Homo sapiens: one gene and its partners. The protein of the gene in region 2 purifies or fractionates together with the protein of the main gene of each other region. This does not show direct contact. Each region holds a gene or a part of one and is shown on either strand. Other genes may lie near its edges. The genes, in order: CPOX, FDX1, GCSH, NUDT9, PGM1, GLOD4 and IDH2.

Region 1 (4,669 bases), on a different chromosome or scaffold from region 2:
ATATGATTTCCAAGTCAATTTTCAAAAGCTGCTTTTTAATTTGTCACTTAAAAACATAATTTTAAAAAAGTATTTGTCAACGTGCGGCATATGAACCCGAATGGCTTTTTTCAGAAGCAATATTTATTTTATAAATAAAACTTGTGGGCAAAATAAGGTTTGCAGGGACTATTAGAGACTATCAAGACTGTCTGATTTACCATCTTTAGTCTTCAGAACTTTTCCTCTGCTTCTCATTTGTTTTGCAGCTTCCTCTGAAAGATTTCCATGAACAACAGAAATGCTCACCCCAGCCTTTTCGAAAACACACCCATCTTGAAGTACACAGCTGATGCCGCCACCTCCTGTGTATAGAAATGTAAAAAAGGAGAGAATGTAAGAGTATGTGCAAAACTGAAAGCAACACTTGCATGAAGATGGTTATTTTCCCGTTTCCCAAATCTTTTATATCAGTGTATTTATCATTTTATGTACAATACAATTAGATAACTAGCTTAGCTTTATGACATATGCTATTAATATTGGGCAAATACTAGACCTTCTCATATCACTAAACTGAATATTTCTTCAACATTCTCCTGCCATCATCTAAAATAAATCACTGGAATATTCTCCCTTCAGATTCTACTGTTCAGAATGGCATCTATCAGTTATGATATATGAGAGAAAGCTAAGGTTAAAAATAGGAATGGGTAGACTTGAAGGGTGTTCTATTATTACTGAATTTAAGAGATCTATATTGTTTCAAAAATTTCTTTCTCAGTGGGCTGCTTGCCTTTTAATTTACAAGCAATTAAGAAACAGTAGGTAATCAAATTCTGAAGGGATTCAGAACCTTAGAGTGAGTGAGACGCACATTAGTATTCACGTGTATCAGCCTTACTAATTTTTTTTCTTAAGGTATTAGGGTCACTGCAAGGGCAATGTTTCATGAAAGTTCATGTTTGGCTTGTTTTATTTCTAAGAACATTTAGAGCTGGATGGGACATAAGATGATCCAGTACAACCCTCATATATTCCAAATGAGAAAACTGAGGACCAGAGGGGCAAAACATCTTATCCAAGATCAAACTGCTGACAAGTGGCTGCAACAATTTGTCTAAATGCTGTCTATGCTTCAGACAATATTCTAAGCACTTCACATATATTCCATCCATATATATATATATATATGTATATGGATATATATATATATATATGTAGTATGAGGATTAAAAGAGATGAAATACATATATATTTCATAGATGGGAAAACAGCCATAAAAAAGTAACTTCTGAGGATCACACAGCTGGTCTAGTACTTGAGGTTGTGTCCTGGTTCAGTGGTCTTTGCTTGAAAACATAAGATGGAAAACTAGACTGAACTTCATTTAATATAGATGTGTCAGTATCACAGCTCAAAATCTGCCGGTGAGAAGCTGCTGTTGTATTTCCAGCTAGGAAAAGTCAGGAATCTTTCAAGTTTCCACTCAAGATGTGGGGTTTCACTGTATGGGCAACAACATGGTCATGAATGTACGCCTCTACGAGAACTGGGTTTTGATGCTCAAGTATTTTGATATTGGAAGAGAAGATTTTCCTAGCAGGAAATCTGATGCGTGCATTTGGTAGTGCTACTGAGAAACGAATCAAATATATCTTGTGTAACAGTAAAAAGAAGTGGGAAGATTCTGACACAATGACATCCTGGCTGGAGGAGTTTAGCCGACACTTAGCGCACAGGAGATGAGTTCTTTCCATCTCCTAAAGAGGAAAAAGGGCAAATTCACCCAGAGAAGGAGAGAAAATGTGTTCCATAATCTATTGAAATTTATGTTCAGTAACGAACTTTGGACATCTAAGCTTGTTAGCTGCAAATACCCCTTAAGAGTTCTACAAAAAAATGCTGCTACGGAATTGCAAAGATTTTGAAATGCAGTACTACAGTGACAGCTGATCCGGGTCCATACCTGCAAGCAGAGGGCTAGTGACCCTTTCGTGTCCATCTTTTTATCAGCGGCCTCTAACCAAGCGGCCTCTCTGTGGGTACCCCCTACCTACCCCATCCCATATTGTGAACTATTATATTTTCTGTCTGCAACCTGGAACCTGACCCTTTTTCCCTGTCTCCAACTCCCGCCAGGGGCCGGCCTCCTTACCTTCCTTCCTCTCCCACCGGTCCACAGAAAAGTTGGCGCCCCCGTCTACCTGTGCCAGAGCCTGGCACACCTGGGCCTGGGTCTCCAGAATCAGCAGCTCCATCTTGGTCTTCATGTCGCCCGGCCTCCTTCGCAGCTCGCCCAGGTCGGTCACAGGCGGGGCCATGAAGCTGCTGCAGCGGTGGGCCAGCTCATCCTCCTCCTCCTCCGGCCTCCCCAGCGAAGTGGCCCGCGTCCCCGAGGTCTTAGGCAACATCTCCGCCCGCTGCACATGCCCGAAGGCGGCGGTGGCCAGCCCCACCAACCCCGCCAGCGCCGCGGCCAGCCCTGTCCCCACCCAGGGGCCGCCTCTCGACGTCGAGCCGTGCCCCAGCCCGCGGCTCTGCTCCGTGCCAGCCGGGCCAGGGGGCCGGCAGACGCGTCCGGCTGCGCTGCGCTGGGACCAGGCTCGGAGCCCTCCGCCGCCGCACTGGGACCAGGCGCGGGGCCCTCCGCAGCCGCCCCGCGCCACGAGCCAGCAGGGGCCCGAGCTCAGCCTGCCCAGCTGCAAGGCCATGTTCCCGCACTATCACCTGGAGCAGTGCCTGCGTCCCAGAGCCCTGCGTTTGAGCCCCCCACCCAGACCCCCGGAGTATTGAGCCGGCGAGCTGCACAGGCGGAAAGAACCTTTCGAGAAGAGCCGCTGCAGCGTCGGGCTCCGGAGGCGGGGGCGGGAACTGGGGCGCGCTGGGAGCTGTAGTCCGGATCCTATCGCCGCCTGCGGCGTCCCTGCGCGGGGCGGGAGATAAGAATCCGACGCGCCCAGAAGGGCTGGTCCGAAGGGAAGAGAGTGGGGCGGGGACGGTGCTGTGGAAGGGACGGGAGAGATAAAAGAGGCTTTCTTGTCACGTACAACCTCGGGTCGGCTGTTTACTCAGCCAAGGAGAGAAGATAGAGTAGGGCTGGGAGGCTGAGGGCGGACTGGGGCGGAAATGTGGCAGAGATCCCAGTCCCGCTTACATTTTCAAACAGGATTTGCGAATACAGAGCCTGGCTCAGGATCTGTATAGACCCGCCCTTCGCCCTGGGTCCTGGTCCTCTAGAGTTTTTAGAGGGGATGGGCAGGCTGGGAAACTCTTTGCTGAAGGATGGTTTTCTAAAGAGAGTGGGAGAAGCTAGTAATGGACTCGGAAGAGAGTCGAGGAGAAGACTTTCTGTGATCGAGTCCACATCACAGTTCTGTCCTTAAGATTTCCCCAGGCTGGGGCCGGGCGCGGTGGCTCAAGCCTGTAATGCTAGCATTTTGGAAAGCCGAGGCGGTTGGATCACATGAGGTCAGGAGTTCGAGACCAGCCAACATGGTGAAACCCTGTCTCTACTAAAACTACAAAAAAATAGCCGGGCGTGGCGGCGTGCACCTGTAGGCTCAGCTACTCGGGAGGCTGAGGCAGGAGAATCGCTTGAACCCGGGAGGCAGAGGTTGTAGTGAGCCGAGATCGCACCACTGCACTCCAGCCTGGGTGACAGAGTGAGACTCTGTCTCAGAAAAAAAAAAAAAAAAAAAAGGTTTCCCCAGGCCTTGCTTCTATAGTGCCTACTTGATTATTTTAGAAAAAGGAAAAGCAACGTGACTGTTTTGGTTAACCAGTAGAAAATTCCTGACTTGGTGTGTTTTGGTGATTAACAAATAAGAATTTAAAAAATAGTTATTCTACTACTGTAGGGTGCTCCCAAATATTGCTCACGTTTAATACTTACAACAACTGCTACAAACTAGGCAAGGCAAATATCCACACTTCCTCCTACTCTGTCTCCCTTCCCCCACCCTTTAAAGAAATGAGGAAAGAAGCTAATAGATTTGACAGGCAGGTCTTTGTCTCCCCTGTAACCATACCACAGCTCCATGGTTCCTGGACGTAAAAGTGTGAGAACTATTGTCATGGGCTAATTTGTCCCATAAGTCTCCGGGATGATTTTAATTTCTAGTAGTAGATAATAATTTAAGCCACTGGTAGCTTTTCCCACAAGTGTTTTCTTTGTGGCAGGATGCACTGATGGAACTTCAATGGCTTTTGAGTCAGATCAATTGGCATCTTGTCCACACACAACTGTACCTGGCAGCTCTCACTGGGACATGATGTTAGCAAGGTGGGTGTGCTTGCCGAAGCCTCACCACTGAGAATCTGTGAAAAGTAAAGGCTTGGATTGAGAAGTGACTAAGCGACTTTTAGGGAAGAAAAACAATTAGCTTTTGGTCATAGTGCAACCTGCCAGGAGGCCAAGTTAGAAGTGGAGGAAGGGAAATAAGAATTGTCATTGTAGGAAGGGTTGATGGCCTCTACTGGATGCCTGTGATGGGGTTGGGCTGGGCCTGGTGATGATAAATGAACCTCATCAAATGAAAAGGAACCTCCCTGGTACGTTTATTTGTAAGAAACCCCCTCATTATTGCTCTAATTCTGCTAAAAATACCCATAAAGTTAGTAAAGCCCATAAAGTTAGTTAAAGCTAAGTAAGAACAGACTGTTTTGAACATTTGCCCGGTCACAAAGG
Region 2 (2,928 bases):
AAACACATCCAATCATTTTTCCTCTAGTTTAGTCAAAACAGAGATCAAACTTCTTTGATAGCATTATAATGTCTACGTCCAGACTTAGTCTTCCGAATCAAAATTTTGAAATATTTATTTATAAGGTCAATAACTATCTTTGAAGTTAAGCAGTTTACTGAGCAATTAAATATTTTTGTCCATACACATTCAGATTTAACTACTACTATAAATAAAATAGTCATAATTTCTCCAGTTTCAGTCTGAACACATAGCTTATAGGAATAAGACACAGGTTCTAGCACAGATTTTCTAATTAGTGGTATGGCCCTAAACAAGCCAGGTTAGATCTCTGCCTTCACCCACATCAAACAGGAATAATAATATATTTCCTTAACCTATCTTCTAGGTAAACAGATGAGATTATATGAAAACATTTTGCTAAAGTCGCTAAACAAACATAAGAAAAAAATATGTAAGGTTTTTCTATCACATTAACTATTTTTTAATATTTGATTGACATTTTTGTAATATAACCAAAATAAAAATTGCATACTTTCAAGAATGACAAAATTCAGTAGTTATGCAAGGTGAATTAAAATAGTAAAGCTAGTCATAATATGAAGTCCACTCATCCATGTTCTCATTTAATCACTTTAAGAAATAATAATTATAAAAATAGGTAAAATTCCATGAAAATATTCCTATTTGTTCTAGTTCAGGAGGTCTTGCCCACATCAATGGATTGTCTGGCATCAGCCACTGTTTCAGGCACTCGAACAGTCATATTGTCCATAGATTTTGTCAAACAGATTTGGCAGCCCAACCGTGATCTGTATGGAAAAGGGGGAAGGTATGGTTTAGTATTACGTATATATATTCACAAGGCAATGCAGTTGTTTAAGATAGTCTTTATATTTTCTTACCCAAAGCAGTCAGGGAACTTATTAACCTTTTAAATTTCCTTTATGTCAAAACAGATATAACCAACCCTATCAACTAGAGAATAACAAAAGGTAAATATGAATACAATAAACTTGGTGTACCAAAGCTTCATTTTAGCCTTTGGTTCCTATTATCTATTAACTGTTTCACCAGACCACTACTTTTTGGTCAAAGAGCTGACAAGCAAGGAAACAATCAGAAGGCACAATGGTGGAGAACTGAGGTTATTAGCAAGGCCAAGAAAATGATTAATCAATTCCTAGATAATTAAAACCACACAGACTATAAAAGAAAGCTACACTTTTTAAAGCCTTTAAAAGAAGAAATCTGGAATAAATACATAGACTTAAGTCATCAATTATAAGAGCATATTTTTTCTCAAATTTTTACCATCTCTGGAAATCAAGAAGCATCTTAAAATCAATGGAATCTTACAATCACTGCTACACTGTCAGGTAATGGTCATGTCACAGCTACAGATTTGGTGACAATATTCATACAGGGGTCTCTTCAACTTAGTTATGCAAAGTATGTAAGTACACATGTCGAATTTACCTACTTTTCAAAATAGTCTAAAAAGATTACAAAATGAAAATGAAGAAGAATACAGAAAGAAAGCAGGGTGTAAATTTGGAATTAATAAATATTTGTCATTTTAAGAATGACTAATTTCCTTTTTTTTTTGCAGAATTACTACTAATTTTATTTTGTGTTTATTTTCCTTCTTTTTTTTTTTTTTTTTTTTAAGACAGGGTCTGGCTCTGTCACCCAGGCTGGAGTGCACTGGCATGATTTCAGCTCACTGTTAACCTCCACCTCCCAGGCCCTGGTGATCCTCCCACCTCAGCCTCCTAAGTAGCGGGGACTACAGGCATGCACCACCATGCTTGAATAATTTTTGTATTTTTTGTAGAGACAAGGTTTCACCATGTTGCTTAGGCTGGTCTCAACCTCCTGGGCTCAAGTGATCTATCCGCCTCAGCCTCCCAAAGTGTTGGGATAACAGGTATGAGCCACCGCACTCAGCCATTTTCTTTTCTTAGCAGTGATATATAATTCAAATCTATGTCTAGATAAGTCTAAATAACTCTTTCAATATTCAGAAAATATGTTAAGTGATAAGACTGTGCCATATTTGAATTAGCAGTGCTTTTATCTTCCTTAGTGGCATATAAAAAGAAATGTTAATCTTACAATTGACATGTCTTCAATTTGATGAAATCTGATATTCAGGTCTTGGTTTTATTAATGTACTCATGAAGCATTTATTGAGCACCTAAAGGCACAACACTAAATGTCAATGAGGAAGAGCAAATCAACTCCACACTTTCTTACTGAACACTTCTTATTTTCTGGGCATTGGGATGCACTAAAGAGACAGCATCAGAGTTACAGCCAAAGAGACCAGCAGTGCAGAATCCAGCACTTAATATACCATGTTCACAGGCAACTTGCTTAACCTCACCAAATGGTAGTTTCCTAACCTAATCTTCAAGATGAGCAGGAGAATTCCTCACAGGACTGCTGTGAGGATTGGTTGCTAATGCCAGCATTAATGAGTAAACTTTCAATCAAAGGGATGAGATGAGACACATTCAGATAGTTAACATGTGAGACTGTGGCAAATGCCACCGAGGGAGAAAGCCAAATGGCTCTGAGAGGTCTAAGAAGAAAGCCCTTACTTCTGGCCACAGAAGGTGTTGTCCACAATGGGCTTTGGAGGATAGGTAGGATTTACTATTTAGTACAAGATAAAGGAGAAAAGTATGTGAGGCAAAGGCAACACAATGCAAAGAAGCTCAAGTCACATTTAAAGCAAGATGGGTGTTTTAGCTTGGTTGCTGCACAGCGTAAACAAGGACAAGGGGAATGATGGGCCAGAAAAGCGGCCAGAGCCACAGGCAGCTGTGAATATCAGTTAAGGGGCCTGTGTTTCACTGGTGAGCAAGGAGGAACCACCAGGAAGTTTTGGAGTAAAGGAGTGTGCTTAACCATGAGAAATAC
Region 3 (4,959 bases), on a different chromosome or scaffold from region 2:
TTTAGCAACCGAGCAATTACTAATTGTAATTAGTACAATTCTCCTTAACAAGGAGCAGTTAGTGTCTCAAACATTTGGGTGTAAAGAAAATTGTTGGCCCCAAGTTTAGAGGGAGACGGCAACATTACAGGTAATGTTACCCCTCAGTCCTGGCCAACAGCAGTGGCTCTCGCCTGTAATCCCAGCACTTTGGGAGGCCGAGGCAGGCAGATCACCTGAGATCAGGAGTTCAAGACCACCCTGGCCAACATGGTGAAACCCCGTCTCTACTAAAATACAAAAAATTGGCCGGGTATGGTGGCGGGCACCTATAATCCCAGCTACCCTGGAGGCTGAGGCAGGAGAATCACTTGAACCTGGGAGGCAGAGGTTGCAGTGATTCAAAGACCTAAGTCTTTATTTTACTAAGCATGCTGTTTAGGCTAAAGGCAATGATTAGTACAATTCTCCTTTAACCCTTGGCCCGACAGGAAGAAGTGGATAGATTAGGTAAATAATTACTTTCTTTTTTTGAGACAGAGTCTCACTCTGTCGCCCAAGCTGGAGTGTAGTGGTGCAATCTAGGCTCGCTGCAACCTCTGCCTCCCGGGTTCAAGTGATTCGGCCTCATCCTCCCAAGGAGCTGGGATTACAAGCACGTGCCACCACGCCCGACTAATTTTTTGTATTTTTGGTAGAGACAGGGTTTCACCATGTTGGCCAGGCTGGTCTTGAACTCCTGACCTCAGGTGATCCGCCCGCCTCAGCCTCCCAAAGTGCTGGGATTAAAGGCATGAGCCACCGTGCCTGGACAATAATTACTTTCTAACTGGGCCTTGAAAAAGGTGGTTTTTGGCCTCGGAAAATTAGGAGTTGTGAGCAATTTATGAAAATTTTGCATTTTCCTTTTTCAATGTCACTAGTCAGATAAAATATTTTATATTAGTATTAGTCAATTTTTCTTCTCTTTTTTTTTTGAGATGGAGGTGTGCTCTTGTCGTCCAGCTACTCCACAGGCTGAGGCAGGAGAAGTGTTTGAACCCGGGAAGCGAAGGTTGCAGTGAGCCAAGATCCTGCCACTGGATGCCAGCCTGGGCGACAGAGCGAGACTCCATCTCAAAAAAGAAGAAAAAAAAAAGGAACGAAAACCACAGACTTGAAACTAAATTCTTATCTGAGAAATGCTTTACCTTTGTATTCAAATTAGTGATGTAGGGATCCCTATCAGAAACAGAGCGGACAGACTATTAGCAAGACAGCATAAGTAAATCTTTATGCTACAAATTTTGGAATAAATTTATCAACCATTCCAGCTCCAAACAGGTTTCTAAAACAATGAGCTAATGAGACAAGAGCCATCACTGATCTACGCAATCGAAGCAGAGGAGCAGTCAGTGTATCAAACATTTGGGCGTAAAGAAAATTGTTGGCCTGGCGCGGTGACGCACGACTGTAATCTCAGCACTTTGGGAGGCTGAGGCGGGTGGATCACTTGAGGTCAGGAGTTTGAGACCAGCCTAACGTGGCGAAACCCTGTCTCTACTAAAAATACAAAACTCAGCTGGAGGTGGTGACGGGCGCCAGTGAACCCAGCTACTCGGGAGGCTGAGGCAAGAGAATCGCTTGAATCTGGGAGGTGGCGCTTGCAGTGAGCCGAGATCACGCCGCTGCACTCCAGCCTGGGCGACAGAGCGAGGCTCCGTCTCAATAAAAAGAAAAAAAAAAAAAAAGAAAATTGTTTTTCCCCTGCAATAATTGTGCTGAAGTAGCACAAATGGCCGAAACATTCATGGGCAGGTTTCCCAGTTATTTCAAGTCCGTTTGAGTTAGGGCTCATTTCAGCAAGCACACACATGAATGATCCAATACAAACTTTAGCAGAACTTCTGTTGAGTCCAGAAGACTTTATCTTACTTGTTTTGGGGAAATAGCTGAATCTTCAAAGTTATGATTGTTTTATCTAGTAAAAAAATCTAGATCTGGCGCTTTAATTTTTTTTTTTTTTTTTTTTTTTGAGGTGGAGTTTTGCTCTGTCGCCCAGGCTGGAGTGCAGTGGCGCGATCTCGGCTCACTGCAACCTCTGCCTCCCAGGTTCAAGCGATTCTCCTGCCTCAGCCTCCCGAGTAGCTGGGATTACATGCGCATGCCGCCACGCCTGGCTAATTTTTTGTACTTTTAGTAGAGATGGGATTTCACCGTGTTAGCCAGGATAGTCTCGATCTCCTGACCTCGTGATCCGCCCTCCGGCATGAGCCAACGCGCCCTGCCTGGTGCTTTAATTTTAATAAGCGCTTCTGTTTTAATTTTACTTCGGAGTTCTCAGTAACGGTCCATTTAGTAAACTAAAGGCCTCCCCATTTGGGGTCTCAACGATGCACGCAGATGGGAGATAAACTTAAGGCCACCGAGACGCTTAAGCGACACGTGCCTGGCTTCTGCAGCAAGCGGCCGACCTGCCCGCCGGACCCGCCGGGCCACCCCCGCCTCGGTGTCCCGCAGGCCTCCCCTCCCGGCTGCATGCAATCCCTAGGGCAAAGGCTACTCGCGGGTCCTCCCGCTACTTAAGGGGGAGAAGCGGCCGCAGAGCCAGGGATCCCAACAGAAATAAGAAGGGGGCAGGGTCCGCGCTCGCTCCGCCCCGGTGGCTCAGGAGCGGTGCCCCGGCGTCCTCCGTGTCCCGCTGGGCCCGGGACAAGCAGCCCAGGCGGGGAGGGAGCAGCCGCCCACGTGCCCGCCGCGCTTACCCGAGAGCAGAGCGGGTCCAGTGCGCAGCGTACGGACGGCGCCCACCCCCAGCTGCCAGGGCCTCGGCGGGCAGGGCGCGGCGGGTGACGGGACCGCGCGCAGGGTGCAGAGCAGGGCCCGCACGCTCCGCACCACTCGCAGCGCCATGTTCGCAGGGGTGCGGGGGTCGCAGCGCTACGCCTCGGCCACCCGCGCCGGGAGGCGGGGCGGGGAGGGGCAGTTCGCGGCCGGAGGGAGCCGGCTGGATGGAGGCGCGGAGGCGGTGCCGCGGGGGCGGGACAGAGCCTGACTGGGCAGAGCGTGGAGGGCGGAGACTCCCAGGCGAGGGGGCGAGGCAGGGTCTGATTGGCCAGCACGCGGAGACTGGGGACTCCAGGGCCTGGCGCGACCTCGGATACGGCGACGCGAAAGAGGGGCGTGGGCATGGGGAAGAACCTGAGGCCCGGAAGAGGCAGCACCGAGAGGCGGAGACTAGCGCGGCGGGCCTGGGTATGATTGGGCTGCCCGCAGGAGGGGGGCGGGGCCTAGCCCCAGACTGGGTTCCTTTCCACATGTGTATCTCTTTTACTGCCTCTGTCATAAGTTTTCAAAGGTGGTTTCACCACCTCACGAAGGAATTCAAGAACAAGTCGGAAAGTCGTGAAAGTACAGAGGTTTACTGCAAAGTACACACTGAAGAAAGGGCGGACTCAAAAGAGGGCCACACAATGGGGCTTGGGGTTTCCATCTTTATGGGTTTCTTTGAGAAATGGAATATACACAAAGGTTTCTGGAATAAGGTGGAGACTTGTCAGAACTGTGGTGCCACCCATTTTTACACCAAATATGGGTGTTCCCGGAATTGTTGTGGTGCCGGTGGGTGTGTGACTTAGTATGTTAATGAGTCCTAGGTGAAGCCTAGGTCAAAGCCACACCACGTTGGGTCCAGTTGGTTTTAGCCAGGTTGACCCACACCCTGGTTTTTCAGGGTCTTAGCCCATAGCTTGTGCAGCTATTTCAACAGTTTCCTTTTGTTAGACAGAACTGCAGCCTGGAAGTTTCTATTCTCCTTCAACTGCTCTGTAACGTTCCTGTCTCAAAGAGCCCCAGGGACCCCAAACAGGACCGGCAGAATCCAGAAGCTTACTTAAAAAGGAATAAAGACTTGTCCAAGGGTCATAAGTGGCTTCTTGGTGGAGACTGGACCCAAGCCAGTCACTAATGCAGAAATATTCAAAACGCAGAGAGCTGAGACCCAGTGTGCACAATTCCTTGTTTCATCGGCCAGCGGTGTGACCAAGGCCTTCCGAGAAAAGCCGAAGTCATCATCCCAATCCAAGAAGTCAGAAAAAAATTAGGTTCTGGGAAAAACCTCACCTTTAACACAGATTTTATGGAGTGGCCATGAGTCAGCAAAGAAATACTGTTCTGAAAAACACCTTAAGCTACACACACACCTTTAGTACTGTTACAGAAAGGGCTCCCAATCCAGACCCCAAGAGAGGGTTTTTGGACCTCATGCAAGAAAGAATTTGGGGAGAGTCTATAAAGTGAAAGCACGTTTAATAGAGAAGTAAAGAAAAAAAAGAATGGCTTCTTCGTAGACAGAGCAGCAGTATGGCTTCTCGACTAAGTGTACTTATAGTTATTTCTTGATTGTATGCTAAACAAGGGGTGGATCATTCAAGAGTTCTCCAGAAAAGGGGCAGGGATTTCCTAGAACTAACGGTTCCTCCGCTTTTTGGACTATAGGGTAACTTCTCTGGACGTTGCCATTGCATTTGTGAACTGTCATGACGCTGGTGGGAGTTGTTTTTTTTTTAACATGCTAATGCATTATAATTAGCGTATAATGAGCAGTGAGACCTACCAGAGGTCGCCATCTTGGTTTTGGTGAGTTTTGGCCAGCTCCTTTACCGCATCCTATTTTATCAGCAGGGACTTTGTGACCTGTATCTTGTGCCAACCCTAGCTCATCCTGTGACTAAGTGAGGCAGGTGAATCACTTGAGGTCAGGAGTTCGAGACCAACCTGGCCAACATGGAGAAACCCCCGTCTCTACTACAAATCCAAAGTTTAGCCAGGCATGGTGGCAGGTGCCTGTAATCCCAGCTACTCAGGAGGCTGAGGCACGAGAATCACTTGAGCCTGGGAGGCAGAGGTTGCAGTGAGTCGAGATCACGCCACTGCACTCCAGCCTGGGTGACAGAGCGAGACTCTGCTTCAGAAAAAAATACAAATAAAAAGAATGCCTAA
Region 4 (3,901 bases), on a different chromosome or scaffold from region 2:
TTTTAAAAAGTAAGTTTTCTTTGACAAGCACTCATTCTGTAAATATCAGAGTGCATCTTGTGTGCCAGACTGTACTAGGCACTGAAGATACAATAAGCAATCCAGTAATTCCTCTTTGAAGAATTTATTCTGATGAAATAGAGACAAGCCTATTAAAGTATTCAAGGCAACATTACTTAAATATTTTATTTTATTTTATTTATTTTTAGATGGAGTCTCGCTGTTGTTGACCAGGCTGAAGTGCAGTGGCACAATCACGGCTCACTGCAACCTCCGCGTCCTGAGTACAAGCGATTCTCCTGCCTCAGCCCCCCGAGTACCTGGGATTACAGGCATCTGCCACCACGCCCAGCTAATTTTTTTGTATTCTTAGTAGAGACCACACTGCCATACCAAAAACTGGAGAGACAGGCAAATACAGAGAATCACAACTGACCAGGGAGAGAAGCCTACCGCTGGAGTCAGCACCTGGTAGGAACACTTAAAGGGTAACTAACTGCTGAAAGCTGACCTTTGGACTAGCTTGAAAGATAAAATCTCCTAGGGGGTCAGCCATACCAGTATGAAGAGGGGGCCTACATTTTAGTGAGCTTTACCTCCAAGAAAGCCACCAGGTGAAGACTGGAGAAAAATCCTCTCTCCTTTCTAACATGGAGAGGGGAAAGGTAACCAATTTCAAATACACCCAGATCACTCTGCCCTCAAGGAAAACTATTTTACCAAGCCCTAAGCAACCTGAGGGAAAGGAAATACCCAACTCCAGCCCCCGCTGGATTTCCTGTCTTTCCTAAGGATTGGGGAGGAAGGAGGGAAGCTGAGAATAACATATGAAGGGTCACAGCCCAGGGCCACAGGCTCACTAAAAGACTGACATCTAACCATATATTCTCCTATGATTCCCCTTCCTCTAGAATTTACCACCATATCTATCAATAGGACTCCTGTTTAATAAAAGGGGAAGACAGCTGAAAGAAGGGCATGCTTCAGACCTCATTTAATAAGTCTCCAGGGAAACCCAAAACTAGAGGAAATTTTAGCCTCTGACACATACAATGACAGCAAACAAAAAACACAGCCTAACTCCTAGCCAGATAAACATAAAACCTCACGCTAAAGAACTATTTGCCTTAGTTCCCTTACAAGTTATATCATGGTCAATTTTCAAAAAAGCACTACAGCCAGGCGCAGTGGCTCATGACTGTAATCCCAGCACTTTGGGAGGCCAAGGTGGGTGGATTACCTGAAGTAAGGAGTTTGAGACCAGCCTGGCCAACATGGTGAAACCCCATCTCTACTAAAAATACAAAAATTAGCCAGGCATGGTGGTGCATGCCTGTAGTACCAGCTACTTGAGAGTCTGAGGCAGGAGAATCGCCTGAACCCGAGAGGCAGAGGTTGCAGTGAGCCATTATCATGCCACTGCACTCCAGCGTGGGTGACAGAGCAAGACTCCATCTCGGGGTTAAAAAAAAAAAAAAAGAAAAAAGAAAAAAAAGCACTAAAAGCACGCTAAAAGGCAAAAAACATAGCCTAAAGAAACAAAGCAAATATTAAAACCGAACTCAAATATGGCAGAGATTTTGGAATTATCAAAACAAAATTTTTTAAGTTTAAAGAGAGAAAAAGATAGGGTAAAAACAGTGAACAATCCATAAACTCTATAATCAACTTCTGGAGGATCAGTCATTGTTTTTAACTCCAAAACTTTAAAGTAGTTAACAAATTTATCAGTACTAAAGTTGTACAGACCTGCTTCTAATTTACATCTGCATATTTCTTCTAAGTTTTCATACTAGGATAAACTCTTCTAATACACCTTAGTGGAAATACAGGAATAGAAAATGGTCCCAGGAGTTTCCTCCAAGTTCAACAAGCAAAAGCACAGGATATGGAAATGACAGATCTAGTTCTAGCCCATTTTGTAAGTGAAAAAACTGAGTCCAAGAGGACAAATGATTTGTACAAGGTTACACAGCTCAGAAAGAACTATGAGTGGAACATTCATTTCATTTCTCTAGCATGGTGCCCCCACTTTTATGCTACAAATAAAAACAAATCAAATTTAGCAATAAAATATGTTTCAAGGGAGCCATTCAATGTGTACATTAAGACCAAATTAATTTTTAAGACAGCAGATTTTTCCTTTCTCCTTCTGTAATAACAGGTTTGACCCTCCTCATAAAATTTTAAATTCCATACACCAGAAACAGCATTCATTTAAAATTTTTTCAGTACTTGGAATTTTTTGTTATTGCTTTGTGTATTAACAATCCAAGATTATTATAAAAATATTTGAAATAGTAAGATATAAATCCCATTTCCTTTATCATTGCCATACTTCCTACCCAAATCCCAGTTGCTTTTGTTTTGCAAAAAAAGGGAACTATACTCAATAAATAATCTGACATCTTTAAAGCATATCATTTTAGCCCATAATTTCATCCTTAATTTCAAATGTTACCAATGGATTAAAGAAAATTTAGTCACTGGTGATAAAAGTTTTGAAGATTTCTTCTATGTATTCCTTTAATACCAACAATTTTGCTTTCATATAACTACAGTCCTACAATCAACAGTTAATTGGTTTAAGATGCTAAATAGTCCAGATTTAATCATGCCTTAGTGGGCTAATGGCTTAAATTGATCCTTTAATCCCAGCCAGTTTAATAAATATAAAGTTACCTGTTTCGTCATGGTAGTTCACAGCTTCTGTCTCCATCCATGCATTATCAGTGTTTCGAGGATCATCAACATATCCCTTATATATCTATTTTCAAAAGAAGACAAATTTTTTAAAAGTCCAAGGTGTAGTGAGTACAGCAGAGCATGTTACCTTCACTAGCATCAGAAATGTAAATATCCTGTTGCCCAACAACATGAACATACTTAATGCTACTGAGCTGTACCTTCAACAGTTTAGATGGTAAATTTGACATTATGTGTTTCTATCAAAATTTTTTTAAAGAAATGTAAATAGCCGGGCGCGGTGGCTCACGCCTGTAATCGCAGCACTTTGGGAGGCTGAGGCGGGTGGATCACCTGAGGTCAGGAGTTCGAGACCAGCCTGACCAACAAGGTGAAACCCTGTCTCTACTAAAAATACAAAAAAAATTAGCCATGCATGGTGGTAGGTGCCTGTAGTCCCGGCTACTCGGGAGGCTAAGACAGGAGAAATTACTTGAACCCAGGAGGTGGAGGTAGCAGTGAGCCAAGATCGCGCCACTGCACTCCAGCCTGGGCAACACAGCGAGACTCTGTCTCAAAAAAAAAAAAAAAGAAAGAAAGAAAGAAAAAAAGAAAGAAATGTAAATATCATAAAACTTTTAATGTAGTACTTCATGTGCTTGTTTCAAATTTCCCAAAGAACAATATTCTCTTTTGAGGCAGCTTTAAAAATCATGAAACCCTCAGGCCAGGCGTGGTGGCTCATGCCTGTAATACCAGCACTTTGGGAGGCGGAGGTGGGCGGATCATGAGGTCAAGAGATCAAGACCATCCTGGCCAACATGGTGAAACCTCGTCTCTACTAAAAACACAAAAATTAGCTGGGCATGGTGGAGAACACCTGTAGTCCCAGCTACTCAGGAGGCTGAGGCAGGAGAATCGCATGAACCCGTGAGGCAGAGGTTGCAGTGAGCCGAGATCGCATCACTGCACTCCAGCCTGGTGACAGAGCCAGACACTGTCTCAAAACAAATAAATAAATCATGAAACCCTCAACACTTCAAACTCTAATTTCAGAATCTGAGAACAGTCAAATTTGGGCAATATGATTTTTTAAGAGTCCATCACTTAAGTATTTTTCTGTGATTATAGTTTCTGAAATACAAAGGTAGATTCTTCTAGTTAAACAAAGGAGATCTATAAATAAAACTAAAGATTACTACTTAAGCTATTAATA
Region 5 (4,210 bases), on a different chromosome or scaffold from region 2:
TCTTCTAATTATCTCAGGCATAATTTACAATCATCCAAACTGGACCCCAAGTTCTCACAAATGGCAAACAGGCACAAGGATGAGAAACCACTTGTGCTAGAAGTTGAGGAGGGGAGACTCCAGGCACTGAGGGTTGCTGTGGCCCATCCATCCATTCACTGCCTGCTCCCCAGAGGGAAGCCTCCAGTAAATCCCACGGCCCGGCCCTTCCAAACCCTATGAGATGCCTTGACAAGGACCAGGCCAAAAATCTGGGTCAATTGGAAAAAAGTAAACTGGGAGGTTGTAACAGAATCTTCATCCTGCTCTTTATTCTATTATGAATTGTGAGAGATGAGTTTACTCTGTGACAACAGGCAACAGAAGCAGAGGTGAGAGAACCCTGGTGCGTAAGTGTTCATGAGAAGCCAGGAGAAAGCCTGACCCAGCCTGCAGCCTAGGGTACCCGGCACACAGTAAGGGAAGCACTAACAATTCTGTCCACATCTAGAGATGCTCCAGGTCCTAAACTGTGGCGTCTTGCCAGGTACTGCTGTGTTAGGTGGGGTGCCACTCATGTGCTGCGAATGACGATGGTCAACGTTTCTAAGTCTGGGAATGCCTCATCTATTTTTCTCTCCTTTAGAAATTAGAACATACGAGAGAAACGTATAAGTATAATGCCACTTACATGCTGTCACTCTGCTATAATCTGCTGACAGAAAAGAGAGGAGTTGACATCTAAGTTCCCACAGTTCTCCCTCTTTCTTAGATTCTGGGGCTCCTTTCTGCATGTACAATGGACACATCATCTTGCATATCATTCCAGAGAGTGCAAAAATCCCTCTGGAGTCCAGGTTAAGAATCCCAGAATGAGGGTACTGGACAGTGCACAGAACAAGGGCATAAACCACTGTCCCAACGAGTGCATGTGAGAGTCACGTGGGACAGCAGAAAACCAGGTAAGAACAGCTACCCTAGAAAAACACAGCAGCAAAAGAAAAATAGCCAACAGGAACTTTTTAATTTTTCCCTTGAGATGTCAGAGATGAAGCTCTGAGGTCTCTCTCTCACTTACACACCGGTCTGTTTCTACCTGATTTCTTGAAATGCTTCCATCCACTGGGTCGCTGTATTCAAAGTTATCGGCCTTCTCCACAGTGTAAACTTTGTCATTTGCTGAGAACTGCTTCCCCACAAAGGAGCGATCAAACATCAGGGCCTCCAAGTCCTTCATCATTTTGTTTGCGCCCTCAGCTTCCACCTCCTCGTAATCATACCTGGAAGAAGTCACGAAGTTGAGGCCCACGGGCTGACTGCAGATCACACCAAGGCCTATCAGTCAGCACTTTCTTCATCATTTGTTTGGCCCTCCCGCAAAACTATCTAACTTCAGAAGAAGCTGGCAAAAAAAATACAGGCCTGTCAGTCACTGGGGATGGAACAGGCCAGGGATGAAAGGAAGGGTTTGGAGGATTTCAGGGAAGGGTTATGAGCTTCTGAATAAGCAGAAAACACCCATCTTGGCATTTCTACAGAATAAAGCTCTAAGATGTTTCAAAGGCTTTTGAAAGATGCTATCTAACATTTAGTCACCACATCCTGAGGAGGTAAAATGAAAAGCAATGTTATCTCTGGAGAACTCTCTTGAAAGGAGCACGTGACTCAGGCACTTCTCCTCCAAGCTCCCTGGGCTTCTCTGGGGTGAATGCTGGGCCTGCTCCCAGCCTGAGACCTGCCTGAGGCTGCTGAGATTTTGACTAAGCAGAGTTCCAGCTCCACAGGAGCTTCCTAAAGCAGGGCCAAGTTTTCACCGACCAGATGAAGACGCCAAACACTGACTCTTTACATCTAAAATGCCTTTTTTTTTTTCATTAATTTTAGTAAGTTTCAAGATACATGTGCAGAACGTGCAGGTTTGTTATATAGGTAAATGTGCCATGGTGATTTGCCGCACCTATCAACCCATCACCTAGGAATTAAGCCCCAAATGCATTAGCTGTTTATCCTGATGCTCTCCCAATTTTTTTTTTTAAATTTTGTTTTATTTTAAGTTCTGCCTCCCTCCTTTCAGTGGCAGTGGATTTTGGTCCAAGGTCCTTTGGGTTCACCCTGACAGAAGAGGCCCAGTGCGGATGAAAAAGGGCCAAGGAAAAAAGTGCATCACAAATGAAATTCTATAAAGATGAGTTTTCCTTCAAGAATTCTTTTTGACTTCTTTCTTATGATGTTAAAGACTTGTACAGGTGGCTTTTCTTGACCTAGTGGCATACACCCTCTTGAGAGAGTTATTTTTTAGAAGCTCAAGATAGCAGAGTCTATATTTATTTGTAATCGTGAAATAGATATCATATATGCAAGATGACACCTCTGAGACATGAGAAATGCTGAGGAATTAAGGCCAGCCTATTCTGGCTCCAGGATTCTATGAATCAAGGGCCAAACAGTCCCCTTAATCTTAAAGTCAGCTCTTTCCCCTAGTTAACATGATAAACAACAAGAAATTACAACCAGGTGTTTGTGCTTTACATTTTTGACCTCTGGGTACTCCAGAGAAATGTTTTCTAAACCCTAGGCACAGAGGGGTGGAATAGAAGAGTCTGGGTTTTGCAATCAGACAGATGAGCTATGAATCCAGCCTCTATTGGCTATTAATTGTGTGACTACAGGGCCAGCTGCCCTATCTCTCAGAATCTCAGCTACCTTATCAATAACTGTTTTGAGGCTAAAGTGAGACAATGCATGCAAAAGTGCCTAGCGCTTTTGTTCAGTAAGTGGAAGGTATAATGGAGTTTTAACTAATCATAAATGCAGGTACTAAGGATTTGATTTGTAATACTTGGTTAGCAATTATATTTGATAATTAATAAAATCATGTTAAAATAGTTTTTATATGGAGGATTGTGACTAATTCAAGGGTGTGACCCTTTCTCTGAACAACCCCTCCTAACCTTATTCTACTCTGGCTATTGTTCACCTGTTAACTCATTCATTTATCGGTTCAAAACGTATTTATGCAGTCTCTACTATGAGTTGGGTGCTTAGGGCACAAAAACAGACATGGCCTTGTTTTTATGATACTCTAGGTTCTAGACAGTTCATGACTGCTGTTCTGAATGACCAGGTTTTTCTGTCTGTTATAAAGTAGGGATTTTTTTGCCTTGGTTCCCAGGGCTACTGTGTGGTGTCAGGTAGTTATTACTTATTCCTTCCACAAAACAGTAACGTGAGAGAGAAAGAGATCAATGAATCCGTCCAAAGTTAATAAAATAATTCTGATTAAGGAGCTTAATTTACTTAGTTGAATTCTTTCTTGACTATCCAGAGATCACGGACTATAAAATCTGGGATATATTTTTTAAATTCTCTAGTCTAACTCACCCATTTTATAGAACAGGCAACTGAGGTCCAGAGAAATTACACCTATTCATTTCTTATACATAAACAATTCATCTAATATCCTTTTTACCATATTTTCTCTCTATAATTGGAATACTGAGGTCCAGAAAAATTCTTGTTAGATTTTTACACTAACTGGGGGAAAGGCAAATTGGAATTAGTGAAAAGTACTACTGTCAAAAATTTTTTAATGCTTTTTAAAAATAGAAGTACGCATGATAAGGAATAATTACTAAGTATTCTAAGTATTTTGTTCACTGCTGAATTCCAAGTACCCGATGGAAATCGGGTATACAGTAAATATCTGTTGAATAAATTAAAAAAATTATTGACAAGTATATAGCCCTTGGGGACCTATTTCACAAGGCAGAAAAGTCGATGTGGACTAAGCATAACTGTTTCTATAATTTATGAAAAAAAGTTTCTAGGCTTTCAGTGCCCCAAAGTTAACAAAACATTTTCAGACTCATTATTCATTTAATCCTCTCAACAGCTGGACTGTTATTCCCATTTCTACAGATGACAAAACTGAGTACAGAGAAAAGCTAAATGGCTCCCCAATCTAGTAAGGGGAAGAAATAAAATTCTAATCCATTTCTCTGAATCCAAATCCAATGTTATGATCATGTCCACCCAATGGACACATTTAAAATGCTTATAAAGCATTTATTCTTTTGATTATGTTAGCTAAACTTTTAAAGCCTCACTCTTTATGGCTGACATAAAAATTGACTTCATTTCATCCCTGACCAGATTATTTTTAAAGTCTCCAATTGAGAGAGGCTGGATGACCTAGGGTTTTATTAGCACTTAAGACAGGAGAGGCTGTGGA
Region 6 (4,210 bases), on a different chromosome or scaffold from region 2:
TAGAAGAAGAAATCTGGAGAGGACGTGAGAGGGAGAAACAGCGCGCACTCAGATTTTTAGAGGAAGAAATCTGGAGAGGACGTGAGAGAGAGAAACAGCGCGCACTCAGATTTTTAGAAGAAATCTGGAGAGGATGTGAGAGAGAGAAACAGCGCGCACTCAGATTTTTAGAAGAAGAAATCTGGAGAGGACGTGAGAGAGAGAAACAGCGCGCACTCAGATTTTTAGAAGAAATCTGGAGAGGATGTGAGAGAGAGAAACAGCGCGCACTCAGATTTTTAGAAGAAGAAATCTGGAGAGGATGTGAGAGAGAGAAACAGTGCGCACTCAGATTTTTAGAAGGAGAAATCTGGAGAGGAGATATGGGGTCAGTAAAAGGTTTTTAAAGGATGGGAGCTTTCAGCGCCTGTTTGCACGCTGGCGAGAATAACTCACTGGAAAGAAGAGACTGATGCTGCAGAATGGAGAAGAGATGATCAAAGGAGCTGCAGAGCTGAGGGGATCAGATGGAGGCATCTCCCTGGGGAGAGCTGAGGGGAACGGATGGAGGCATCTCCATGGGGAGAGCTGAGGGGGTCAGATGGAGGCATCTCCACGGGGAGAGCTGAGGGGATGGGATGGAGGCATCTCCATGGGGAGAGCTGAGGGGAACGGATGGAGGCATCTCCATGGCAAGAGCTGAGGGGATGGGATGGAGGCATCTCCATGCGGAGAGCTGAGGGGAACGGATGGAGGCATCTCCATGGGGAGAGCTGAGGGGGTCGGATGGAGGCATCTCCCTGGCGAGAGCTGAGGGGAACGGATAGAGGCATCTCCATGGGGAGAGCTGAGGGGGTCAGATGGAGGCATCTCCATGCAGAGAGCTGAGGGGGTCGGATGGAGGCATCTCCATGGGGAGAGCTGAGGGGGTCGGATGGAGGCATCTCCATGGGGAGAGCTGAGGGGGTCGGATAGAGGCATCTCCATGTGGAGAGCAGAATAAGCACAGATCCACCAGCAGTGGTTCCAGGGCAGCCTGAGGTTGTGGTAAGGCACAAATGCTAAGTCTAGACAAGCAGTCTACACAGGTGGCAGTGAAGACATCGGTCCTTGGCTGAGGTCAACCCAACAGCGAAAGGACGTGGTTCTGACATTAAGAACCTGGACCCTGTTGCTTAGTCTCCTCCCACACACACTTAATGCCATCCCTCTCAGGCCCATGGTGACATAAATGTAGAAATGGGACTCACATCATCCAACAATTTGCTTCCCTCTGGATCCATCTTAGAAAGTTCTCGAAATGCTTCATCCCCGACAAAGCAAATTTCATGTCCGTCCTACACCAATAAAGAGAAAAGACACCTGCCAAAGACATCCTTGAAGAAACCCCTGGTCCAGCCTGCCCCCTGCCTGAGAAATACTTACAGGGTCGGCCAGAATGACCACCTGTACTGTTGCTTTCCCTGGGGTGTCCAGGCTCACCAGGGGAGTCAGAATCTTCTGGTTCTCCCTTTTCATCAAGTCTTCTAAGTCTGGCAACTTGAGGAAAACAGAGGCAACGTGAGCCAGGGGTCACACACTACTCAGGACACGGCCCTCGTCAGTCCTAGAGGAGTATCAGATACCATAAAGAACCAAGGCGCCATTTGTTTGAATTTATTATCTCAGCTGCTCTTGAAACAACTGCTGAACTTGATACTAAAGCCACAATCAAAAAGGACCTCAAGAAGGGAAGGACAAAGTTCTTAGCTGGGTTGAACTAGCTAGTCAGAAAGCTCAAACGATCTGGTATCAAGCGTTACCTCTTTCTGGGGGCAAGAGAAGGCAATTCTTCCAAAAGCTGCTGCATGGTCCACCCCACCCTTGACGCCCTGTAGCTCCAGCTTACACTGAAATAGGAAAGGGGGTTATTTTTTGGAACAGGTTATACATTCATTACACGTATGTGGTAGAAAAATTCAAATATTATATACTAAAGGAATAAAGTAAAAACTGAGTCTCTATCCTACTCTCACCCCAGAGACAACTAGTCCACACTTTCCTGTGTATCCTTCTAGAAGCACTGCACGCATCTATGTTTTTTTTTTTACACAAATGGTGGTATAATTTACAAATTATTCTGTTCCTTGTTTTTCTCCACTTAATGTTACCATGTCAATACATAAAGATTTGCCTCAATCTTTTTGCTAGCGACATAGTAATCCATTCCATGAATGAGCCGTAAATTACTGAAATATGTCTCTAATCTATAGGACACTGAAATTCTTACACATTGTGATTACAGACAATGCTGCAGCAGATAACCTTGCACACACTTCTTTGTGCCGATGTATGTTGAGCACATCTGTAAAATAATTCCTAGGAGTAGAATTGCAGGGTCAAAGTGCAAGGACTAAATCGTGCTCAAACGCTGGGTTATTAGAAAAAGAAGATGAAAAAGATCTTGCATTAAATCCATTCAATCTCTTGGATTAAGCAATTCCACTTCTGAAGAGATATATCCCCAAATATAAACAAGGTAATATCTGGGTGGTAAGGTTATCACTTATTTTCTTCTGTTTATCTATATAAATATTGAATCACTGTGAAGAAACTATGGGAACAACCTTCATGTTAACTTCATTTATAAAGGTTATAAGCCATTTATAAGCTTCGTTTACAAGCCAAATTCAAAGTAACAGGTTATTCTTCTCCAAGATTGCTCACCTGGTTATCAGCATAGCCCAGCAAAGCCCTTTGCTTTTCTTCATCTTTTTCATAAATTTTCATTCCCAGTAGATTACACCAGTAGTTCAAGGACTTTTGAAGATCAGACACTGCTAGAGTTACTTTTAATACAGGATCTGTTGGGTAATAAAGCAGGAATAGACAGATCAATTTAATAGAATAAAATAGAAAGACCAAAACATGCGCATGTATACTTACAAATTCAGTTTATGATAAGAAAGGGATTTTAAGCCAGTATGAAGCTGGGTGCAGCGGCCCATGCCTGTAATGCCAGCACTTTGGGAGACTGAGGTAGGAGGATTGCGTGAGCCTAGGAATTCAAGACCAATGCAGGTAAAACACTGAGACCTTGCCTGTATGAAAACTTTAAAAAAATTGGCTGGGTGTGGTGGCTGATGCCTGTAATCCCAGCACTTTGGGAGGCCAAGGCAAGTGGATTACCTGAGGTCAGGAGTTTGAGACCAGCCTGGCCAACATGGCAAAACCCTGTCTCTACTAAAAATAAAAAATAAAAAAAATTAGCTGGGCGTGGTGGCGCACGCCTGTAATCCCAGCTACTCGGGAGGCTGAGACAGGAGAATTGCTTGAACCTGGGAGGCGGAGGTTGCAGTGAGCCGAGATGGCGCCGTTGCACTCTAGCCTGGGAGACAAGAGCAAAACTCTGTCTCAAAAAAAAAAAAAAAAAAAAAAAAGATTAGACAGGCGTGGTGGCTCATGTGTGTATTCCCAGCCACTTCAGAGATGGAAGCAGGAGGATCGCTTGAGCCCGGGAGGTTGAGGCTGCAGTGAGCCAAGACTGCACTACTGCACTCCAGCCTGGGTGACAGTGAGACCCTATCTCGAAAAAAAAAAAAAAAAAAAAAACAAAGACAGTATGAAAAGCCTCATTATTCAATGGACGGCGCTAAGAAGACTGGCTAATCATTTGGTAAGAAAAACTTACATCTTCGAAATAAATGACAAAATACATTCCTGATGGGTTAAAAAAATAAGTTTAGAGAATGAAACCATGAAAATACTAGATACAGATGATTATTTATACAATTTTGGAGTAGAGGAAGATTTTTCTTTAAACCTGACACCAAAGATAGAAAAACTATGAAGAAAAAACTTCTGCTACATAAATTACACAAAATGGAAAACTCCTAGACAACAACCAAGAAAAGGAATTACAATCAAAACTAGAGTATACAACACAGTAGGGGGAACAACTGCAATATATTGGACAAAAAGTCCTTAATATGTAAATCACCTGTAAATATCAATAGGAAAAGAATGAACATGCTAGAAAAATAGGCAAAAGGCACAAAGCAATAATCCACAAAACAAGGAATTAGAATGGTCAAATAACATACGAAAAAATATTCAGGCCGGGCGCGGTGGCTCACGCCTGTAATCCCAGCACTTTGGGAGGCTGAGGTGGCAGGATCATGAGGTCAGGAGATAGAGACCATCCTGGCTAACACGGTGAAACCCCGTCTCTACTAAAAATACAAAAAATTAG
Region 7 (4,210 bases), on a different chromosome or scaffold from region 2:
ACCACAGGACCTGATTATTTACTCACCGGCAGGTGCTAACTAAGCACTTATCCAGTACCCCACTGGGATACTGAAATGCCTAAAACACAACAGTGCCTGCCCGGAGGCAGTGAATGTGGAAGGGGAAACCTACAGGTAACAGAGAGAGAGCAAGCAGGGCTGTCACCAAAGTCAGGAGTGCCCAGGCCTCCCTGGAAGCAAACATCCCAGGGGAACTGAGAACAGCAACATGAGCCAAGGCCAGCAGAGACTTGTTCTGCTTGTTCCAGGTACTGGTTTTTTAAAAAAATCTTAATTGGTGACCAAGTTTTAAAAATCAGTAAATCTCAACAATAAAACAAATAACTCAACGTTAAAATGGACAGAAGACTGGCTGGGCACCGTGGCTCATGCCTGTAATCCCAGCACTTTGGAAGGCTGAAGAGGGCAGATCACTTGAGGTCAGGAGTTCGAGACCAGCCTGGCCACAATGGTGAAACTCTGTGTCTACTAAAAATAGAAAAAAAATTAGCCTGGTGTGGTGACACACACCTGTAGTCCCAGCTATTTGGGAGGCTGAGGCAGGAGAATTGCTTGAACCCAGGAGGTGGAGGTTGCAGTGAGCAGAGATCATGCCACTGCACTCCAGCCTGGGTAACAGGAAGACTCCATCTCAAAATAAATAAATAAATATAATGGACAAAAGACTTAAATAGACATTTCAAGTCCAAAGATGATATACAAATGGCCAACAAGCACATGAAAAGATGCTCAACATCACTAATCATCAGGGAAATGCAAATCAAAACCATAATGAGATATCACCCCACTATCCCCTCACAACCACTAAGAGAGCTACTATCAGGAAAAGAAAAACAAAACAGAAAATAAAGTGCTAGCAAGGATGTGGAGAAATTGGAACTCTTGTGCCCTGTTGGTGGGAATGTGAAATGGTGCAGCTGCTGTGGAAAACAGTATGGGTGTTCCTTAGCTAAAAGGAAAAGAATTACTGCCGGGCACGGTGGCTCGCACCTGTAATCCCAGCACTGTGGAAGGCTGAGGCGGGTGGATCACGAGGTCAGAAGATCGAGACCATCCTGGCTAACACAGTGAAACCCTGACTCTACTAAAAATACAAAAAATTAGCCAGGCGTGGTGGCAGGCGCCTGTAGTCCCAGCTACTGGGGAGGCTGAGGCAGGAGAATGGCATGAACCCGGGAGGCGGAGCTTGCAGTGAGCTGAGATCGCGCCACTGCACTCCAGCATGGGCGAAAGAGAGCAAGACTCCGTCTCGAAAAAAAAAAAGAAAAGAAAAGGACAAGAATTACTATATGATCCAGCAATTCTGCTTCTGTATATACATCCAAAAATATCGAAAGCGGGGTCTGAAAGAGATATATGTATGCCCACATTCATAGCAGCAATGTTCACAACAGCAAAAGATAGAAGCAACCCACGTGTCCATCACAGATGAATGGATAAAGACAATGTGATACAGTCCCCCCTTATCAAAGGTTTTATTTCCATGACGTCAGTTACCTGTGGTGTCAGTTACCCACAGTCAACCATAGTCTGAAAATAGGTGAGTACAGTACAGTAAGATATTTTAAGAGATCACATTCATGTAACTTTCATTACAGTATATTGTTATAATTGTTCTATTTTATTACTAGTTATTATTGCTAATCTCTTACTGTTCCTAATTCATAAATTAAACTTTATCATAGATCTGTATGTATAGGAAAAAAACATAGTATCTACAGGCTTTGCAGTTTCAGGTATCCACTGGGGATCTTGAAATGCATCCTCCAAGGATAAGGGGGACTACTGTTATCTACATACAATGGAATATGATTCAGCCTTGAAAAGAAGGGAAATTCTGACACCTGCTACAAAGTGGATGAACCTGGGGGGCATTATGCTAACTAAGTGAAATAAACCAGTCACAAAAGACAAATACTATATGCTTCTACTTACATGAGGTACCTAGAATAGTCAAATTCATAGAAACAGAAAGTAAAAAGGTGGCTGCCAGGGACTGGGGACGGGAAGTGGGGAGGTATTGTTTCATGGGTAGAGAGTTTCGGTTTTGCAAGGTGACAAAGTTCTGGTGATGGATGGTGGTAATGTCTGCACAACAGTGCGAATGTACTTAACAATACTGTACACTGAACAATGACTAAGATGGTAAGTTTTATACGTTTTTTACCAAAATAATAAAAATTTAAACCAGTCAAAAAAAATCAGGAGATTTTATATAAAAATCTAGAAATGCAGCAGGCACTCACTCATGGCAAGGATGGGCTGGGCTGAAGGCGGCCTCTCCCTTCACTCCATGACAGCCAAGTGCCCTCCAGTGTGGCCCAGGGCACTGGAGTTTGAGACCCCTGTCTGCTGTTCAGCCTGTATGGTGGAGATACAGCCATGGTCTGCCCTTCTCTGAGAGATAAGTGGTGACAAGCTACCTGAAATACACAGAGCAGCAGCTAGGCCTCCCTGAAAACCTCCGAAGTGACAGCCACCACGAATCTTCAGCTGATGCATTGCACAAACACTGTCCTCTTGGCGAGAGTGCAGGATGGAATTACACCAGTCACCAGAGGCACGTTAGGCTGACTCTCCTCCCTGTCTGGGGCTCCTAGCACCCAATACCAAGTAAGGATTTCAAAACACATCCCTGGCTTCTTGCTGCTCCCAGCAGGAGGCTAGAGGTCCAGCCGCAGGCAGCCAGCCCCAGGCATAACTGCTCCCTCCACATTCCTACCCATGCTCTCAGCAGAAAGGCTGCTCAGTCAGCATGTCCCAGCAAAAGATCAGAGAGTGGGGAAAGGTTCCAATTCCTGGGGGCTCAAGAAGGCAGGACAGCAACTTTGTATATTTTATGTATGTATGTATGTATGTATGCATGCATGTATGTATGTATGTATGTATGTATGTATTGAGACAGAGTCTCACTCTGTCGCCTACACTGGAGGGCAGTGGCGTGATCTCGGCTCACTGCAAGCTCCACCTCCTGGGTTCAGGCAATTCTCCTGCCTCAGCCCCTGAGTAGCTGGGACTACAGGCGCCTGCCACCACACCCAGCTAATTTTTGTATTTTTAGTAGAGACCGGGTTTCACCATGGTGGCCAGGCAGGTCTCGAACTCCTGGCCCCAACTGATCCGCCTGCTTCGGCCTCCCAAAGTCCTGGGAGCCACCGCACGCGGCCAGAACAGCCATTTTGGAACAAACTCTAGTAGACTCCTTGGTGTCATCCTTCATTCCTTCCCTTCTCTCACATCCAAACCACCAAAACCAGAAGCCACCCTCAGACAAGCCCACCCTTGCCATAAGTGAGTGCCTGCTGCGTATCTAGATTTTTATGTAAAATCGCCTGAATTGGAACCTTTCCCCACTACTGGCTCCTCCTTCAAAATATATCCAGAATCCAACCACTTCTTCACCATCCCCAGCGCCACCACCCAGGTCCAAGCCATCATCCTCTCTTGCCAGGTCCCTGAAGCTAGAATGCTCCCGATAAGATGGAAATCAGGTAACGATACTCCTCTCAAAACCCTGCAAAGTAAAAGCGAAAGCTCTCAAAAATGGCCTGTGAGCCCTCTACAGACCCCACTGCCGAACCTCATCCTGTCACTCCACCTGGTGCCTGCTGAGCCAGCCTTCGCACCATCCTCTCTGCTCTTCCATCATGCCCTTGGCACCTGCGAGTCCCTCTTCCCCCAATACCGAAAATGGCCTGCTTCCTCCCCTCCTCAGCGATTCCTTCAGTGAGGACTTTTCTGGCTGCCCTATACAAACTTTTGTGCACACACCTTTCTTGCCTGTTTCTCCTTAGCTCTTCTCTTTTTGGGGGGAGAAGGGGGAGGCAGGGTCTTGCTTTGTCACCCAGGCTAGAGTGCAGTGGCACAATTGTACCTCACTGCAGCCTTGACCTCCTGGGCTCAAATGATCCTCCTGAGTAGCTAAGACCACAGACATGCACCATCGTGCCTGGCTAATTTTATTTTTTATTTTTGTAGAGATGGGGTCTCACTATATTGCCCAGGCTGGTCTGGAGCTCCCAGCCTCAAGCAATCCTCCCACCTCAGCCCCCCAAAATTCTGGGATTACAGGTGTAAGCCACAGTGCCTGGCCTTCCTTAGCTCTTGTACCCATATATCATACTAGTCAACATCTATCTTGCTTACTGTCTGCCCCCTCCCACATCAGAATTTGAGCTCCTAAGGGTTT

What was found.
Region 1: the proteins of FDX1 (region 2) and CPOX fractionate together in Homo sapiens (co-fractionation; one large-scale study listed by BioGRID). This does not show direct contact.
Region 3: the proteins of FDX1 (region 2) and GCSH fractionate together in Homo sapiens (co-fractionation; one large-scale study listed by BioGRID). This does not show direct contact.
Region 4: the proteins of FDX1 (region 2) and NUDT9 fractionate together in Homo sapiens (co-fractionation; one large-scale study listed by BioGRID). This does not show direct contact.
Region 5: the proteins of FDX1 (region 2) and PGM1 fractionate together in Homo sapiens (co-fractionation; one large-scale study listed by BioGRID). This does not show direct contact.
Region 6: the proteins of FDX1 (region 2) and GLOD4 fractionate together in Homo sapiens (co-fractionation; one large-scale study listed by BioGRID). This does not show direct contact.
Region 7: the proteins of FDX1 (region 2) and IDH2 fractionate together in Homo sapiens (co-fractionation; one large-scale study listed by BioGRID). This does not show direct contact.

What each region holds. Positions count from the first base shown.
Region 1 is NC_000003.12:98,590,812-98,595,480, forward strand, and holds the start of CPOX (oxygen-dependent coproporphyrinogen-III oxidase, mitochondrial precursor), read right to left. Parts: upstream 2,801-4,669; 5' UTR 2,694-2,800; coding exon 2,138-2,693; intron 345-2,137; coding exon 201-344; intron 1-200. UniProt on the Homo sapiens protein: Catalyzes the aerobic oxidative decarboxylation of propionate groups of rings A and B of coproporphyrinogen-III to yield the vinyl groups in protoporphyrinogen-IX and participates to the sixth step in the heme biosynthetic pathway.
Region 2 is NC_000011.10:110,460,238-110,463,165, reverse strand, and holds part of FDX1 (adrenodoxin, mitochondrial precursor), read right to left. Parts: intron 813-2,928; coding exon 698-812; 3' UTR 1-697.
Region 3 is NC_000016.10:81,093,408-81,098,366, forward strand, and holds the start of GCSH (glycine cleavage system H protein, mitochondrial precursor), read right to left. Parts: upstream 2,989-4,959; 5' UTR 2,872-2,988; coding exon 2,724-2,871; intron 183-2,723; exon of another isoform or gene 1-182. UniProt on the Homo sapiens protein: The glycine cleavage system catalyzes the degradation of glycine. The H protein (GCSH) shuttles the methylamine group of glycine from the P protein (GLDC) to the T protein (GCST).
Region 4 is NC_000004.12:87,453,237-87,457,137, reverse strand, and holds part of NUDT9 (ADP-ribose pyrophosphatase, mitochondrial isoform a precursor), read right to left. Parts: intron 2,768-3,901; coding exon 2,683-2,767; intron 1-2,682.
Region 5 is NC_000001.11:63,648,718-63,652,927, reverse strand, and holds part of PGM1 (phosphoglucomutase-1), read right to left. Parts: intron 1,260-4,210; coding exon 1,076-1,259; intron 1-1,075. UniProt on the Homo sapiens protein: Catalyzes the reversible isomerization of alpha-D-glucose 1-phosphate to alpha-D-glucose 6-phosphate. The mechanism proceeds via the intermediate compound alpha-D-glucose 1,6-bisphosphate.
Region 6 is NC_000017.11:768,640-772,849, forward strand, and holds part of GLOD4 (glyoxalase domain-containing protein 4), read right to left. Parts: intron 2,823-4,210; coding exon 2,686-2,822; intron 1,869-2,685; coding exon 1,782-1,868; intron 1,519-1,781; coding exon 1,405-1,518; intron 1,317-1,404; coding exon 1,230-1,316; intron 1-1,229.
Region 7 is NC_000015.10:90,095,644-90,099,853, forward strand, and holds part of IDH2 (isocitrate dehydrogenase [NADP], mitochondrial isoform 1 precursor), read right to left. Parts: intron 1-4,210. UniProt on the Homo sapiens protein: Plays a role in intermediary metabolism and energy production. It may tightly associate or interact with the pyruvate dehydrogenase complex.